4 linked regions of the Homo sapiens genome follow. The protein of the gene in region 1 purifies or fractionates together with the protein of each later gene. This does not show direct contact. Each region holds a gene or a part of one and is shown on either strand. Other genes may lie near its edges. The genes, in order: IFIH1, IFI27, TNKS2 and FAM168B.

The links.
Region 2: the proteins of IFIH1 (region 1) and IFI27 purify together in Homo sapiens (affinity purification with western blotting; one study listed by BioGRID). This does not show direct contact.
Region 3: the proteins of IFIH1 (region 1) and TNKS2 purify together in Homo sapiens (affinity purification with western blotting, with the first as the bait; one study listed by BioGRID). This does not show direct contact.
Region 4: the proteins of IFIH1 (region 1) and FAM168B purify together in Homo sapiens (co-immunoprecipitation; one large-scale study listed by IntAct). This does not show direct contact.

The regions. Positions count from the first base shown.
Region 1 is NC_000002.12:162,277,003-162,281,032, reverse strand, and holds part of IFIH1 (interferon-induced helicase C domain-containing protein 1), read left to right. Parts: intron 1-920; coding exon 921-1,037; intron 1,038-2,704; coding exon 2,705-2,828; intron 2,829-3,339; coding exon 3,340-3,618; intron 3,619-4,030.
Region 2 is NC_000014.9:94,109,488-94,113,597, forward strand, and holds the start of IFI27 (interferon alpha-inducible protein 27, mitochondrial), read left to right. Parts: upstream 1-1,310; intron 1,311-1,327; exon of another isoform or gene 1,328-1,491; intron 1,492-2,137; 5' UTR 2,138-2,195; coding exon 2,196-2,286; intron 2,287-4,110. UniProt on the Homo sapiens protein: Probable adapter protein involved in different biological processes. Part of the signaling pathways that lead to apoptosis.
Region 3 is NC_000010.11:91,839,734-91,843,763, forward strand, and holds part of TNKS2 (poly [ADP-ribose] polymerase tankyrase-2), read left to right. Parts: intron 1-827; coding exon 828-973; intron 974-1,549; coding exon 1,550-1,715; intron 1,716-2,438; coding exon 2,439-2,658; intron 2,659-4,030. UniProt on the Homo sapiens protein: Poly-ADP-ribosyltransferase involved in various processes such as Wnt signaling pathway, telomere length and vesicle trafficking.
Region 4 is NC_000002.12:131,055,195-131,059,224, forward strand, and holds part of FAM168B (myelin-associated neurite-outgrowth inhibitor), read right to left. Parts: intron 502-4,030; coding exon 359-501; intron 256-358; coding exon 78-255; intron 1-77. UniProt on the Homo sapiens protein: Inhibitor of neuronal axonal outgrowth. Acts as a negative regulator of CDC42 and STAT3 and a positive regulator of STMN2. Positive regulator of CDC27.

The sequences.
Region 1 (4,030 bases):
TCTACCTGATATAGAAATATGCATAAACTATGAAAGTTTCTAGTTGTCACACATAATAAAGTCTTACTCCATGAGTTTCAAAACTGCGTATTTTCTGTCCTTCATATGTTATTCTAGGAATCTAGGTAATTCAAATTAAAGGGAAATAGGGATATGAAGATCTTTAAAGATGAGCTTGTCAGCTGCCCCCTAATGGTAACACCACATACAGTGCTACTGTTAATCTTGAGTGTTAAGTAAATCAGAGTAGCCCAAGAAGTATTTTGGTACCAAGGCAATTGCATTTGAATTTTAAGTCCCTTACTTTAAGTTGAATTCAATACAAATTATGTAGAGTAGACACAACATTCAGAGATGCAATTATAGGCTCCAAAATATAATTTATTACTGGGATTAAGGACTAATTCCAATCTAATAATCAAGGAACATGACTAAGGATGCTCCCAGCTTTATGTGTAGATGCCTGCTTTATGTGTAGAAGAAGGTGGTAGTATGATCCACGGATGTCAAGTTGACCTTTGATATGCCTCATGTAACATGGTTATCTCAAAATCATTCTCTGTCAATGATGGTAAATTGTTATACTCTTTCCATGTCAGTTTTCCACTTGGAAAATGGAATTTAAGGAATGAATATCAATACACCTTTTTCTCTGTTATTACACCAACTTGATTTAGAAGCTCCTTTTTCCTATATTAGGACAAATGTTGCTGATTGTGGGTTAATGAGATCCATAATAAAACAATGTTAAAATGCTATATTTAGCAAGCAATGCTACATATTACTTTCATGAAATTTTATACCACATATTTATGCTACAATTTAATGCTACATATTTTTTACATGAAAAAGAGTTCTACGTTGAATAAAGTGAAAGGGAAAAATAATTGCATAAATATTGAAAAATGTCTCTTTTCCAGCTATGTGCCAATCTTGATGCATTTACTATTAAAACTGTTAAAGAAAACCTTGATCAACTGAAAAACCAAATACAGGAGCCATGCAAGAAGTTTGCCATTGCAGATGCAACCAGAGAAGTATGGGCTTAATGTTTTATATCTATTGATTGACAATACTACATTCAGTAGAAAGATGGCAAAGGCTATTTTATACTGACCATCTGAAAAATATTATTTAAAAATTTTAGCAAACAAGTTTCAGGTTTTTTTTTAATTGATGTTAGGCAGTAAAGCACTACAGTGAATTCTCGCCTCTAGACCTCTTTTAGTTTTCTAATTTACATGAGGAATAGCTTATTCATTGTTTGTACATATGAGTTAAAAGGGACAGTGAGGGGCCATGGGCAGAGGGATGTGTAACTAAGCTGGAGGGGTTATGACAGTTCGTTTTAGCCTTTTTAATTTTCTTCGTGAATTCCAGGATTGATTTTCTGACATTCCACAGAGCCATTTTGTTGCTATCAAATTACATTTGGCAATGATAATGGGAATCCTATCTAATTTGCATACTTGCATATTTACTTTCTTAGGAAAACAGTGCAATGGTAAAGAAGTGAAATATTTACTTTAATGATGCTTTTCTGATGAATTTTTCAGGAATTATAAGAATAAACTGAGAGTCAATTTGGACATTATGGCCAGTAAATTATGTCAATACTTTATTTTGTAAAATTTAGAAAGCATTACAAATTCTGGCCATATGTACTTGATAATACCATTGAAAATAAGAATGTTGGGATCAAATGATATGAAATATGCATAGTAGATAAAACAATGCTTGAAATATAGTAGGCACTAAACCAATGTTAGTAACTAGCCTCCGTATATCTCTTTTTTTAAATTCTGAAAAAGACTGCTATCTACTCCAGCTGCACTAGCACAGTTGAATATATTTTATTCACTTTCCTTTTTTTGTTACTTATTTGGTTTTACTTGATAATTTTAAATGCATGTTTCTACTCATAAAGATTTTTAAAACTAAATTTCTCAGGTACATTTTTTAAAAGAATTTGCCATTTTTTAAACTTACTTTAATTTTTTTATATACCTTGAAGCATAACATACATACAGAAAAGTACAAATTCATATGTGTACTGATTGCTGAATTTTCCTAAACTGAATACACATATGTAAACAAAATCCAAATCAAGAGACAGCACACTGCCAGTATCCTAAAAGCTCCTGGCTCCCCCTTCCAGTCACCATGCCCCAGGAATCACTACTATCTTGACTTCTAAAACAAAAAATGAGTTTTCACTGATTCTGAACTTTATATAAATGGAATCATATAGCATGCACTCCTTTATTTCTGGCTTTATTCAGACTCTACTTCAACTTTTTATTTTGGTCGAAATAATACTGAAACCAGTTTTACAAAGGAGGAATGTTTCTTAAATTACACTGTAAGCTTTCTAAATAATTGTGGCATTAATGCAATATGTGTTTTCTAAGTTACCTTTAACATACAAGGTTTATATAATTCATTAACTTTACTTTTGTTAACCTTTTAAGTTGGAGATTCCAGCAGAGGTAACAGGGTGTTGGTGTGGGTGTGGCTTGATGGCAGGCTTAAAAGAGAAGCTGACAAAAATAAATGTACAGACAAGTGATGGGACACTAACCTGTTACTTTGTCTAAACAAAGATGAATCAGATTTATTATAACCTAGAAATTATTCTAACAAAGATAATGTTATTCCTTTAACAATAAGAATACATAAGAATAAGTGTGTACTTTATTTTTAGGATCCATTTAAAGAGAAACTTCTAGAAATAATGACAAGGATTCAAACTTATTGTCAAATGAGTCCAATGTCAGATTTTGGAACTCAACCCTATGAACAATGGGCCATTCAAATGGAAAAAAAAGGTAATTTAGGTTTGGACCTAACACTTAGTTTATCCCATGTTTATACCAAGATTTTAGATGACTATATCACAGATTCCCCAAAAAATGGAAAGCAAAAGTAGTTCCAAATAGAATTTCTGTGTTCTCTGTAGGACAAGCATAATAAACATGTTCTAATTCCTTTTCTAAGGAGAGAGATTCCAATGCTATCCAATTTTCTCTTTGTCTCCAGAGTCTTGAGATAAACTTTAATAGCTCTGTCTCCAAAGGCAAACTCAACTAATATATTTTCATGCCATTTCTCTGTGCATCAGCTACATGTTTTTGCTGAGGCAGAACTCAAGCAGCAAGTCTAGGAGTTGGAAAACTTGCCCTGTTTCAGAGCTCAGGACACATTTTGAGCCTTAACTTGCCCATTTTAAAACCAAGGTGAAGCCAGTTTTGCAGTTAGTAACATATATTCAAGTCCATGGCACAATTTTAGGGGGTTTATATGCTTATTATTTCACTTACATAATATATTTTTTCACAGCTGCAAAAGAAGGAAATCGCAAAGAACGTGTTTGTGCAGAACATTTGAGGAAGTACAATGAGGCCCTACAAATTAATGACACAATTCGAATGATAGATGCGTATACTCATCTTGAAACTTTCTATAATGAAGAGAAAGATAAGAAGTTTGCAGTCATAGAAGATGATAGTGATGAGGGTGGTGATGATGAGTATTGTGATGGTGATGAAGATGAGGATGATTTAAAGAAACCTTTGAAACTGGATGAAACAGATAGATTTCTCATGACTTTATTTTTTGGTAAGATTCAAAGTAACATATACTGGTGTCATTCATTTACCTTTTCAACATGAACTTACTGCTTCTCATAAGCTCTCCAAAAAGAGAAATATCTTTTGAAAGAAGAAATCCCACTCAGATTGGAACTATTTCTAATGATATGACCAGATTAGCTACCAGTTGTATGATCACAGTCAGTCATTTGGTCATTCAGTTTTATTGTCAAGACAATTGTAATGAATTTATTTATTAAACCATCCTAATTATTAGATATAGCGCAAGATTGTAGATGAGCCACAATTCATGAAACCTTCTAGTGTAATTCGTTGTATGTTTTACTAATTTATACTTCCAAATAGTTTTTAAATTAATTAATTTTTAATCAATAAAACTGTATATTTTTGGTGTACAAAATGTTTGATATATCTGTACA
Region 2 (4,110 bases), on another chromosome or scaffold:
CGCCAAGTGTCAGTAGTTGCTAGGTAGGACTGGGAATCTTGGAGTTATGGTCAGGTTCCTGCAGTTTTGGATTGGGTTTGTGAGACACTGTGCCAGGCAAGTGTTTTTGCATAACTGGCTCGCTCTCCCTGTGCTTCTAGCTGTCCTTGTGTGGCCCATGTGATAAGCTGCAGTTTGGAAACATTTCTTGTGATAGTTCCTGTTAGCAGGCAAACGGGAGAGCCTCATCTTGCGTGAGAGCCCTCCCATTAAAGCCTTGCTGGCTCTGTCTGCTGAGGTTTTACCCAAGTGACTCCATTTTGAATCTTACAACTCGCACACTACTCATGTGGAAGATTTAAATGTACATTCCAGGACCTGGTGCTTTCTCTTCCGCCTGTTCTCAAAGCAGCTGCAGGGTGAGCCTGACTGTGTCATTTCTCAGCTTCATCTCCCTTTCCCCAAAAAGGTATAGATGATAATCCCCTGCAATGGCTTCAGGACACAAGATCAAGTCCTTGCAGTGCTTTTGTGGCCTCACAGGGCCTGGATCCCTGTTAAACTCTGAGTTCACCTCCTGCCTCTCTCCCCTGCCCACCTGCTGAGGCCACACTGGCCCCCTTGCTGCTCCTGCCACACGGGCTCTGCCACTGCTGTGGCCTCCACCTGGAATGACTGCCCCCCCATAATTCTGCCTAGGTCACTGCTTCACCTCCTTTTGCTTTAGCGCTTCATCAAATAACATTCTATACATTTAGTTATTTATTATGTTTAGTTTGCCCCCATTGCTGGTAAACTCTGTGAGGATGGATATTTTGGTCTGTTTTGTTTACAGTCCTGTCCCAGTGCCTAGTCAGTATCTAGCACAGTGGGCCTTCAGTTGAGACTTTTTTTGAAAAACGGAACATCTGCCTATCGCAAGGACTACTATTATTCTGAAAATCACCTTCTTCATTAGAAAGTAATATTTATCATTTTATTATAGAACTTTGATCTTACTTCTTGTGACTTCATTCTGCGTAGAGCACACTCCCATCCTTGAATTAAATGACAAAGCATTTTATATTAACTGACAATGACTGATGCCATGGGCAAATCCTATTTCTGTAAATAACTGAATTTTCTTCTGGACTGCGCATGAGGGGAGAAAGATGTCTGCAGTTTCGGTTTCCTGGAAAATGAAACCTATCTCATTTGTTGCCTGTGTCAAGGGGCAGTGCTTCAGTCGGGGTGGAGCTGCTTAAAAGGCCTGGGATCACACCCTTTGGGAACACATCCAAGCTTAAGACGGTGAGGTCAGCTTCACATTCTCAGGAACTCTCCTTCTTTGGGTAAGACTGGGAGGGTGGGCAGGAGCTACCCTTCCCGTGGCCCCGGACCTTGGGTGGGCTGTGGGCTCAGGGAGCGGAGGGGAGGCCTTAAGCATCCACTCTCTGCCCGGTGTTTTTGTTCTCATCAGGGAGCCTCAGATGGGAAGGGACTCGAGCCCCACCTGTCCCTGGACTCTGGAATGTAAGGACAATTAGCTTTGTCCTTGCCCAGGTTTTCCTCAGGCCTTGAGGGCGGCTTGGGGTAAAGTGGGCAAGGGGAAGAGATAAGTGTTAGGAGGAACCAAGTCGAAGCCATTGCAAGTCCATGCCTGGGCGGGGTGTTGCTTCCCTATGGAAAGCTTCTGACCTGGAGCAAATCACTGAGCCAGATCGCGCTCCCTCATCTGTAACATGCGGAGGAGGAGGGTCCCATCTTTTTCACGTTAGTGAGGAGATTACATAAGAGCAGGCACCTCGCCTGCTGTATATGCCTTAAAAATGCGATTGGTTCTGATTTCTTAGTTTTGGTGCTTTTTCAATTGCTCCGTGGAGAGATAAGGGAGTCCCGGAAGTGTCTAAGACATTGGCGCTGGGACTTTCAGGAGAAAGAAAGCAGCCCCCCTGGGGAAATAAAGTCCCTCAGGGCCCTGACCTAACACAGGTCCTTTGGTAGCCCCAACTCCCCAACATCCCTCCCTCCCTCACCCCAGGATCCTTTCAAGGCCTGCTGCTCCACAAGCTCAGAGCAGCCTCCCTAGCCCCCTGGAGCCCGTCACATTTTTCAGGACAGTGGGAAGCAAGTCAGGTTGTGTGCCCATCCCGTCCTCAGAGCTCCATCCCTTCGGCAGGTCTGGCTGAAGTTGAGGATCTCTTACTCTCTAGGCCACGGAATTAACCCGAGCAGGCATGGAGGCCTCTGCTCTCACCTCATCAGCAGTGACCAGTGTGGCCAAAGTGGTCAGGGTGGCCTCTGGCTCTGCCGTAGTTTTGCCCCTGGGTGAGTGTTCCTGGGAGGGGCTGGTGCTGGGGGCGAGGAGGCGGCTGGGAAGGGCGGGGGTCCTGTCCCGGGACCCGTGGGAGAGAAAATGGGGGACACCCGCAGCCTTGCTGCCCTGTCCTGTCTTCTCACAGCAGGCGTCCACCCTAACTTTCCATCTGGGAGGGGGCCCGGGGCAGGCAGACTCTGGCCAGATGCCCAGCCCTGGGTGTTCCACAGGTCCTCTCCCCTCTGGGCCCGGGCCTCCTCCTGCCTAGCCGGAAAGGGTCTATCTACCACTGAGTCCCACTCTCTTCAGCTCTCCCTTCCCCCAGATTCACCATCAGAATTCATCTCCTTTAGGAGTTTACCTTGTCAATAGGGCCCCGTGTCCTATGGGATCTCACATCCAGAGTATCGATTTTAACAAAATTCTTCAGCTCACTTTTTTCATTAGTTTCTGGGAGATCTCTTTCTGGTTTTATTTATTCTCATTTTCTTCCTTTTCACCCTCGATTCCCCTCCCTCAAAGTCAACCTTTCTAATATATTTAATGTGTGTCTGTTTTTCATATGTATTTTTGCAGAATGGGTATTGTGTTTTGTTTGCGGGCATTTTAACTGACATGCAGGATGGTGTGCTGTAGATCCCATTCTATTGCTTTTTTCCACACTGAGAACCATATTCTTGAGATCCATCAGTGTCATTCGATGAGCATCTAATCCTGGCTTCTACCTGCTGACAAGTGCTCCTCTGTGTGTATCCCCTGCCCTTTACCTTTCTGTCTCCGTGGGTGGACATCCAGGGGTTCCCCCAACTCCGCCAGCACAAATGGCACAGGCTTGAATGGGGGCACAGGGCCCCTGACTCCGACCCTGACTTCTGACCCCTGCCCCAACCTCTAACCTCTGTTTGAGCCTGCACTCACCCTTTGCTGACCCTGTCATCCTCAGCTGCCCTGAGCCCCAACATCTCTCTCCTCAGACCCTTGCTGGGGGCACTGGAGGCTAGCTCCTTCATGCTGGGGTCCCTCACTGGCACCCTGTTTTGCAACTTGGAGGTAACTGGCCCTCGGCAACACACACCACTCTGGGCTCCCAACTCAGTACAGAGAAGTGTGATGAGCAAGCAAGGGCCTGGGCCACGCCCAGCAGTCCTTTCTGTTTGTCAGAAATGCAGATGACTTCTCAGTTTAAGATCAAGCAATTCATAAAATTAAAATAATAACAGCTCAACTTAAGCAAGCGCTTTTATGTTCTAGTCACTTACCCTAGCACTTGAGGTTTGTCAATTTAATTCTCATAACAACCCCAGAGGAAGATAAGAAGATAATATCGTCCCTTATTTACCAACTGGGACAATTTACTGTTGTCCAAGTGCTCTGGGCAGGACAGAAGGGTGTGGGTGTGCTGCTTCCAGGCTTGGAACAGGAGGTAGAACAATGAACAATGACAGAAAGTATTAATAGGCCAGGCACGGTGGCTCACACCTGCAATCCCGGCACTTTGGGAGGCCAAGAAGGGCGGATCACTCGAGGTCAGGAGTTTGAGACCAGCCTGGCCACCACGGTAAAACCCTGTCTCTACCAAAAATACAAATATTAGCTAGGCATGGTGGTGCATGCCTGTAATCCCAGCTACTTGGGAAGCTGAGTCAGAAGAATCACTTGAATCCAGGAGGCAGAGGTTGCAGTGAGCCGAGATTGTGCCACTGCACTCCAGGCTGGGTGACAGAGCTAAGATTCTGTCTCAAAAAAAAAGAAAGAAATATTAATAGAAGTAGGAAAAGGTTGGAGGGAGGTCTCAGGGTAGGGCAGGTTCTGAATGGCACGAAATAATGGCCAGG
Region 3 (4,030 bases), on another chromosome or scaffold:
GACCCAATGCACATTAAAGTTTGAGAACCACTGCTCTAAAGGAGTACTTTTCAAACTTTAATGTGTTTCCATATTACCTAGGGATCTTGTTAAAGGGCAAATTCTGACTCAGTAGATAGAGATCTGAGATTCTGAATTCTTAATAAGCTCCTTGGTAATGCTGGTACTACCGTAATCTCATGTACCTCTATGTATATTTGCCACAAAATGCAAGTTACACTTGCTGATGATTGGCACTTAGTTTACCTGTATATATATATAGTAGCGGTAATGATAAAATTTACCCTTGAGCGTTAGAAAAAGTAGAATATAAAGGCATACGTGAGACCAGGCACGGTGGCTCACACTTGTAATCCTAGCATTTGGAAGGCCAAGGTGGGAGGATCCCTTGAGGCCAGGAGTTCAAGACCATCCTGGCCAACATGGTGAAACCCCGCCTCTACTAAAAATATAAAAATTAGCCAGGTGTCCTGGCATGTGCCTGTAGTCCCTGCTGCTCGGGAGGCTGAGGCAGGAGAATTGCTTGAACCCAGGAAACAGAGGTTGCAGTGAACTGAGATTGCGCCACTGCACCCCAGCCTGGGTAAGAGAGCTAGACTCTGTCTCAAAAAAATAATAAGACAAAAAAAAAGGGCATGGATGAGAGGACCAGAGGGATTCCCAGTAAATGACAAGGTGAAATAAGAATACTAAATAGTTTCTGAGAATACTGATTTAATGAGACAAGAAAATAAGTCAGACACTTTGAAAATTCCTACTAAATGACTTGAAACAAGAAATAACAATATGTAGATGTAGTATCATGTATGTTGTGTTTTGTCCTTCAGAAACTGTGTACTGTTCAGAGTGTCAACTGCAGAGACATTGAAGGGCGTCAGTCTACACCACTTCATTTTGCAGCTGGGTATAACAGAGTGTCCGTGGTGGAATATCTGCTACAGCATGGAGCTGATGTGCATGCTAAAGATAAAGGGTAAATGCCAATGATTGTTATGGACTCTCTTCCTTACTTTTACTTGACCTTTTTAGGAAAACCTGGAAATATAATATGTTTTATTTTTCAAGAAAGCCTGTTTCCTAACATTGGCCTAAATATTAAATAGAGCTTCTTAATTTCAATTAAGATTTTATATGGTTAGCATTCATATAAAGACTTTATTGGCATAATGCCTGAGAATTTTATAATGGCCAAGGAGATTATAACATTAGTGTGATATTGACTTTTAATGTAGTAAATTTTTCAGTTTCCATGGAGGGTTTTTTAATTCTTCCAGTTTATCTTGAAGTTATTTTTTATTAAAAATATACAATTCTAGACGTTGCATATATGGATGAATGTTATAGTCTCTGCATTTAAAACATTTTTTAAATGTTCTCCCCTGACTCACCAAAAAGAACTTATTTCTGCCTTAAATAGATTTAGGTTCTACAAAGTATAATCAGTATAATTCCTTATGTAGTTCAAGAATTATCTTTCATCAGTTATATGTAATTATTTAAATTAAAACATGTTCTTCTGTGGCATTATTGTTCATTTATTACTTTTCAGAGGCCTTGTACCTTTGCACAATGCATGTTCTTATGGACATTATGAAGTTGCAGAACTTCTTGTTAAACATGGAGCAGTAGTTAATGTAGCTGATTTATGGAAATTTACACCTTTACATGAAGCAGCAGCAAAAGGAAAATATGAAATTTGCAAACTTCTGCTCCAGGTATATTTAAATACTTAACTGTAAAGAGTATGAATTACATAGCATATGTTTATGGTTTTCTAAATAATTCTAGTATAAAGTTAAACTAGTAAGCAATGGGAAGCAATGTTACCTAATTCTGTACCTAGATTTTAGAATAAATATAATAAACATTTTATATTTTAATCCACAAGTATGTTTACTAGCACCTAGAGTTATTTTTGTCTAGAGCCAACTATCATGTGATAGTTCTCTTATTATTTTTAGTTTTTCTCTTTGGTACTTTTATATTCATCAAATATAAAAATATTTGATGAATTATTTACTTACAAGCCAGATTTATTTAGCATTGATAAAATGGATGATACTGGTTCAGTACAGATACCAGTGGATATTTTACAATAACAAGAATACAGAGATTTATACTTTATTTAAATGTTCATGAAAAGTAAAAATAGTATAACATGAAAGTTAATTTTTAATGAAATATGACTTTATTTTGAATGTAGTTTAAAATTTTGACTACATTAATGCATTAAAAAATCCAGTAATATTTAACTGCCTCTGTATTCTTTTTATAATAATTCTTTGTATAAACATTAGTAACAGTGATGTTAACCTTCAAAGTAGAGTCTCAATATAAATTTAGTTTTTCTTTGGTATAGTTAACACTGACTATTTTCTCATTGACCAAAGGCACATTTAAGCCATTTCCCCCTTTTTTTCTGTTTTTCACATGCCTAGCATGGTGCAGACCCTACAAAAAAAAACAGGGATGGAAATACTCCTTTGGATCTTGTTAAAGATGGAGATACAGATATTCAAGATCTGCTTAGGGGAGATGCAGCTTTGCTAGATGCTGCCAAGAAGGGTTGTTTAGCCAGAGTGAAGAAGTTGTCTTCTCCTGATAATGTAAATTGCCGCGATACCCAAGGCAGACATTCAACACCTTTACATTTAGCAGGTAAGTGAATGAAGTTTCACAGATTTAGGCTGGTAATATCTGAGATTCATTTTACCCAGGTAAAATATTTTCTGTAACTAAACTTTAAAAATTCAAATCAGGCCAAGCATGGTGGCTCACACTTGTAATCCCAACACTTTATGAGGCTAAGGCAGGAGGATTGCTTGAGCCCAGGAATTTGAGAGCAGCCTGGGCAACATGGCAAAACCACACCTCTATAAAAAATTACAAAAATTAGCCAGGAGTGGTGGTGTGCACCTGTAGTCCCAGCTATTCAGGAGGCTGAGGTGGGAAGATTGAGCCCAGGAGGTCACGGATGCAATAAGCCTTGATTGTGCCACTGTACTCCAGAAACAAAGTGAGACCCTGTCTCAAAAAATAAAAAAAATAAATAAAAATTCAAATCAAGTATCTTCTAATGCCACCATTATACTCTTCAGTGTATTTGTACAGGACGACCGTACTTGAAGCTATTAGCTGAGTTCGAGTTCACTTTATTACTAGTATGTTACATTCAGTAAGAACAATTGAAGTAGGCTCTGCCAGTCCCCATGTGCTTTGGGAATCATTATTCCAGGTAATCATTTTATTGGTATCACCTTTGGTAAACAAGTTTTGAAAAATATGCCTACTTGAGCCAGCCTTCCTTATAGGAAGCTAAAGCTTTCTATTTTTCCTGATGGTAGCTGCTAAGCACAAGCAGGAAAAAAAAAAAATCTCAAAACTCTCAGAAGTTACATAAGCCTCTCACCAAAGTTATCTGTTGTTTTGGTTTGTGAGAGTTCTCATAACAAAATACCAAAGACCAGGTGGCTTAAACAACAGAAATTTGTTTTCTCACAGTTCTGGAGGCTAGGAGTCCAAGTTCAAGGTGTTGGCAGAGTTGGTTTCTTCTGAAACCCCCTCTTGGCTTGCAGCTGTCTACCTTCTCAGTGTGTCCTCCATTGGAACATGGTGTCTCTTTCTATATGTCCTAGTCTCTACTTTTAAGGAAACCAGTCAAATTAGATTAGAGCCCACCCTAATGGGCTCATTTTAACTTTTTTAGCTCTTTAAAGGCTCTGTCTCCAAATAGAGTCATATTCTAAGGTACTGGGGTTAGGGCTTCAACATAAGAATTTTGCAGGGTACAATTCATTTCGTGACATTTGTTTTAAGGTTTCACTCATAAAACTGGCACAGTGTACCTTTGTTTTCAGTGCAAATATACAATATATTGTGGTTTCAGTACAGCTTTTTCAGCTGCATTACAGATGTTAGGAAATCATTAAAATCACTGAGCTATAGCTAATACCTCAGTGGAGTTCCATCATAGACACAGCGGACTCATACAAGTTTGTCTAAATATACATGATTTAAACATGGTATAAAA
Region 4 (4,030 bases), about 31 Mb from region 1:
CAGAGGATTCGTGAGCTCTCCCCTCCCCCAGCTCTAGGGTACACCATAGGACAGACACCGCAGGAACGAGGACTTACCTGCTGACATGGCCATGGTGGTCCCAGCCACCATGCCCATGGTGACCCCGTTGCCTCTAGGAGGGGGGATGGGAGCAGGGTACACCGTTGCAGGCATGCCGTTGGGCTGCACCACCGTGGTGTGGTGGATGACGTGAGGAGGTGCTGCATACAGCGGCTGTGTGTAGTACGTGCCTTGCTGTGGGGAGAAGAGAGACAACTGACACAGGGTCCCAGGGCCAAAGGATGAACGCCCAGGTGGTATCACCCCTTCCCACACAGCAGTGTGTACCCAAGCATACCTGTGCATACGGGCTCTGCTGGGGGTAGGCACTTCGCACAGGGTACACGGCAGTCTGGTAGGGGTTCGGGGAGGAGGAGTACGGTGGCACAGCCCCGCTGGTGGGGGAACAGGACACTTTGTAAGGTGTGCCAGGAGTGTAACCTGGAACAAAGAAGGCAATGGCCTGAGTTCACCCAAGCCGGTCCAGGCGCAGGGAGAGGACACAGGCAGGGAGGAGCTAAGCTGCGTGTCAGCCCCACGCAACTCGCCAGACCTGCTGCCACTGCCGCCCCCACTCTCCTCCACTAAGATCTGACTTCATTCTTACTTTGTGTACGTGTGTGCATGCACGTGTGTGTGGTGGCAGGGTGTTGGGGAGGAGGAAAAAATACCAAAAGAGAACGTTCTACAGATGGAATGCTCACACAAGGACAGGAAATAAAAACTGTCTTGTCCTGCTGGAATTTAAATTGGTATGGCATTCCTGGGGCTAAACTTGGCATCTAAAGTATATATGCCTTTTAATCCCACAATTCCACTTCTAGAAGTCTGTCTTAAAGCAATACACATGGATCTATACACACACAGAGACTTAACTGTAAGCATGCTCATCATAGTGTTGTTTGTTACAGCAAAAACAGGAGAAACTTGCCCAGCACCAGGACTGGCTAAGCACTCTATGGTAAAAAGCCCTCTGGGTTAAGGGAGAAAGCTGAACACACATACTTGCTTTTGTCCCCACACAAAATGACATGAAAATGACAATAAAGCAGATTAAGAGAAAAAAGACATAAAACTCACCAAGAATGGAAGAGAAGACAGCATGTTGAAGCCTGGCAAGCTGAAGTGGAGGATGATTGAGCAGACTCGAGAAGAAGGCACTCAGCCAGCAGCGAGGAGCAGCTGGCACCAAGAGAGCCGTTCCCCAAAGCCCTGCAAACTGCTGGCCACCAACCCGTCTCCAGAAGCAGATAAAGAGACCCCATCTAGTAGAGTGGTTGAGTTTGCTGAATAAGCAGTTAGGTGTCCCTTCCTGACCCCAACAGAGAAGAGGGGTTTGGTCTCAGGGGAGGGAGAGGGTCTCTGGACAGCTATGTTCACAGCAGCTATATTCACAATGATCAAAAGCTGGCAATGGCCCAGATGCCCACCAGGAGACAAATGGGTAAACACACTGTGGTGCATCCATACAAATCCTACTGAGCAAGCCAAAGGGACAAACTGCTGATCCATACAAGCACATGAATGAATCACAAAGCCACACCATGTCAAAGGAGCCAGATACAAGGACACATGCTGGATGCATGTACTGACAGAAGCTCTAGGAAAGACCAACCTAATCCAGAGTCATCAAAACCCCAGCAATGGTGCCAGGGGCCAGAGGGGCATGCGAGAACCTTTCCAAAGAGTGCATTCACTCAAATGTGGTGACGGTCATACAGCTGTGTATGACTGTCCAAACATACCAAACTGTACACTGAGAAGGATTAACTTATAATATGTAAATCAGACCTCCATACAAGTGCTTATGGCATCTCACATTCCCATGGGTGAGAGCAGGAGGGGTGGAGCACTCACACACTGTCCGTGTCAGACAGTGCAACTTTGCAAGCCAGAGACACATCCCGCAACATCCAGCAATCCACTCCCAAAACTTCCCCTAGAAAAATGAAAACACAGGTCCACGAAAGACTTGTAAAAAGTGTTCAATCTTATTCCTAGTAGCCAAAAATGGGAACTAATCCAAATCTTCATCAACTGGAGAAAGGATAAATCATGATATGTCTCTATAAACATTACTCAGCAATCAAAAGGAAAAAACATGGATGAATCTCACAACATGCTGAGCTTTCCAAAGAAGCTGGAAACAGAACAGCACATAGAGCAATGATCCCGTTTATTCCCTAACAACAAAGAAATTTACCTACGGTGACGGAAATCAGAGGGGAGAGGGCGAAGAAAGCGTTCTGGGATGATCAAAGTATTCCATGTTTTATTTGGAGTGGTGGTTCCATGGGCATGTACAACTGTCAAAACCCACCCAGTTGAGCACTTAATATGTGGGTGTTTTGTGCATAAATTATACCTCAAGTTTGAAAAAATGAGCTGAGTATAAAGAATTTTGGATCACCTGAGCCGGAGGTCAACGCTGCAGTGAGCTGTAATTATGCCTCTGCATTCTGCCTGGGCGACAAAGTAAGACGCTGTCTCAGAAAAATAGTAATAATAATTAAAGTTAATTTTTAAAAAATTTTACACAACTGGGCTGTTAGCAATATGTACGTGTGTGTATTTTTTTTTTATTTTTATTTTTTGAGATGGAGTCTTGCTCTATTCCCTAGGCTGGAGTGTAGTGGTGCAATCTCAGCTCACTGCAGCCTCCGCCTCCTGGGTTCAAGCAATTCTCATGCCCCAGCCACCCGAGTAGCTGGGATTGCAGGCATGTGCCACCACATCCAGCTAATTTTTGTAATTTTTAGTATAGACGGGATTTTGCCATGTTGGCCAGGATAGTCTGGAACTCCTGGCCTCAAATGATCCTCCTGCCTCAGCCTCCCAAAGTAGTAGGATTACAGGTGTGAGCCTGTATATATATATGTGCCTGGTCCATATATTTTGTTTTAATTTGAAAGGGAAAGAGAATGATTGGCCCCCTGGGAAATTCACTAGTCTGGGGCCTTTTGTTTGGGGTGCCAGTGCAATTCTGTGACATGGATATATTGCACAGTGGTGAAGTCTGGGCTTTTTCACCTAAATACTGCACACTGTATCAATTAAGCAACACGAAGCCTTCAACATCAGCCTTCTCATACTCCCCTGCATGCCCTTTCATGGTCTCACGGTGGGAGGTGCTGTGGCTGAGATCTGCAGCAGACCAAACAACAGGTGGTCCTGTCCTATGCAGCAAAGCGGGTGCTCACACCCAGATTTGTCTGCATCCAGAGTCCTGACCCTTCTACCCAAACCAAGCAACTCCCAACCTCAGCTAGTCTCCATTTGAAGAAAGAAAAGATTCCTCCAGGGCTCCCTGTATTTTGAAATTCGCTCACCGCTATGTTAACCGTAAATAGAAACACTGCCAAAATTTGAATACAACAACTTTTTAATACTGGTGCTTGGCCAAAGGAAAGCAGAATACGCAGATTTTCCATTAGGATTTGGAAAAGCAAGTTTCAAGACAAGAGCAGTTACAGAGTTTCCTTCTCTGGCTGCTCATCTCCTCGTCTTTAAGAAGGCTAAAAAAGGAAAGTGAAAAGGAAAGCTTCACAGGTGTACACAGGTTAAAACTCATCAAACTGAAGCTTTAAATCTGTACACTTAGTTGTATGCCAATTACGCCACAACGAGGTTGTATAACATTTTCTTTAATTATAAAGAAAAAGGTAGTGTGAATGCCATCAAAGAATTATAAAGGAAAAGGTAGTGTGTCCGGCCATGTACTGATACTCCCAGGAGACCCGGGACAGTCCAATTCCCCCTAAGTGACTAGCTAACTCAGGGAAGAAATGCAAAAAGGAAGCATGGTGTGTGGCGGGCACACATGTGACTAGTGAATGGTGACTGGGGCATTGTACCAACACAGAGAGGCTATTCACCATCAACATGGGGCCATGCCCTGTCACAGCGGAGATGATCAGGACAGATCCAGCCCTCTCCATAAGGTGCTTGGCTTCAGGGGGAAAAGAAATCA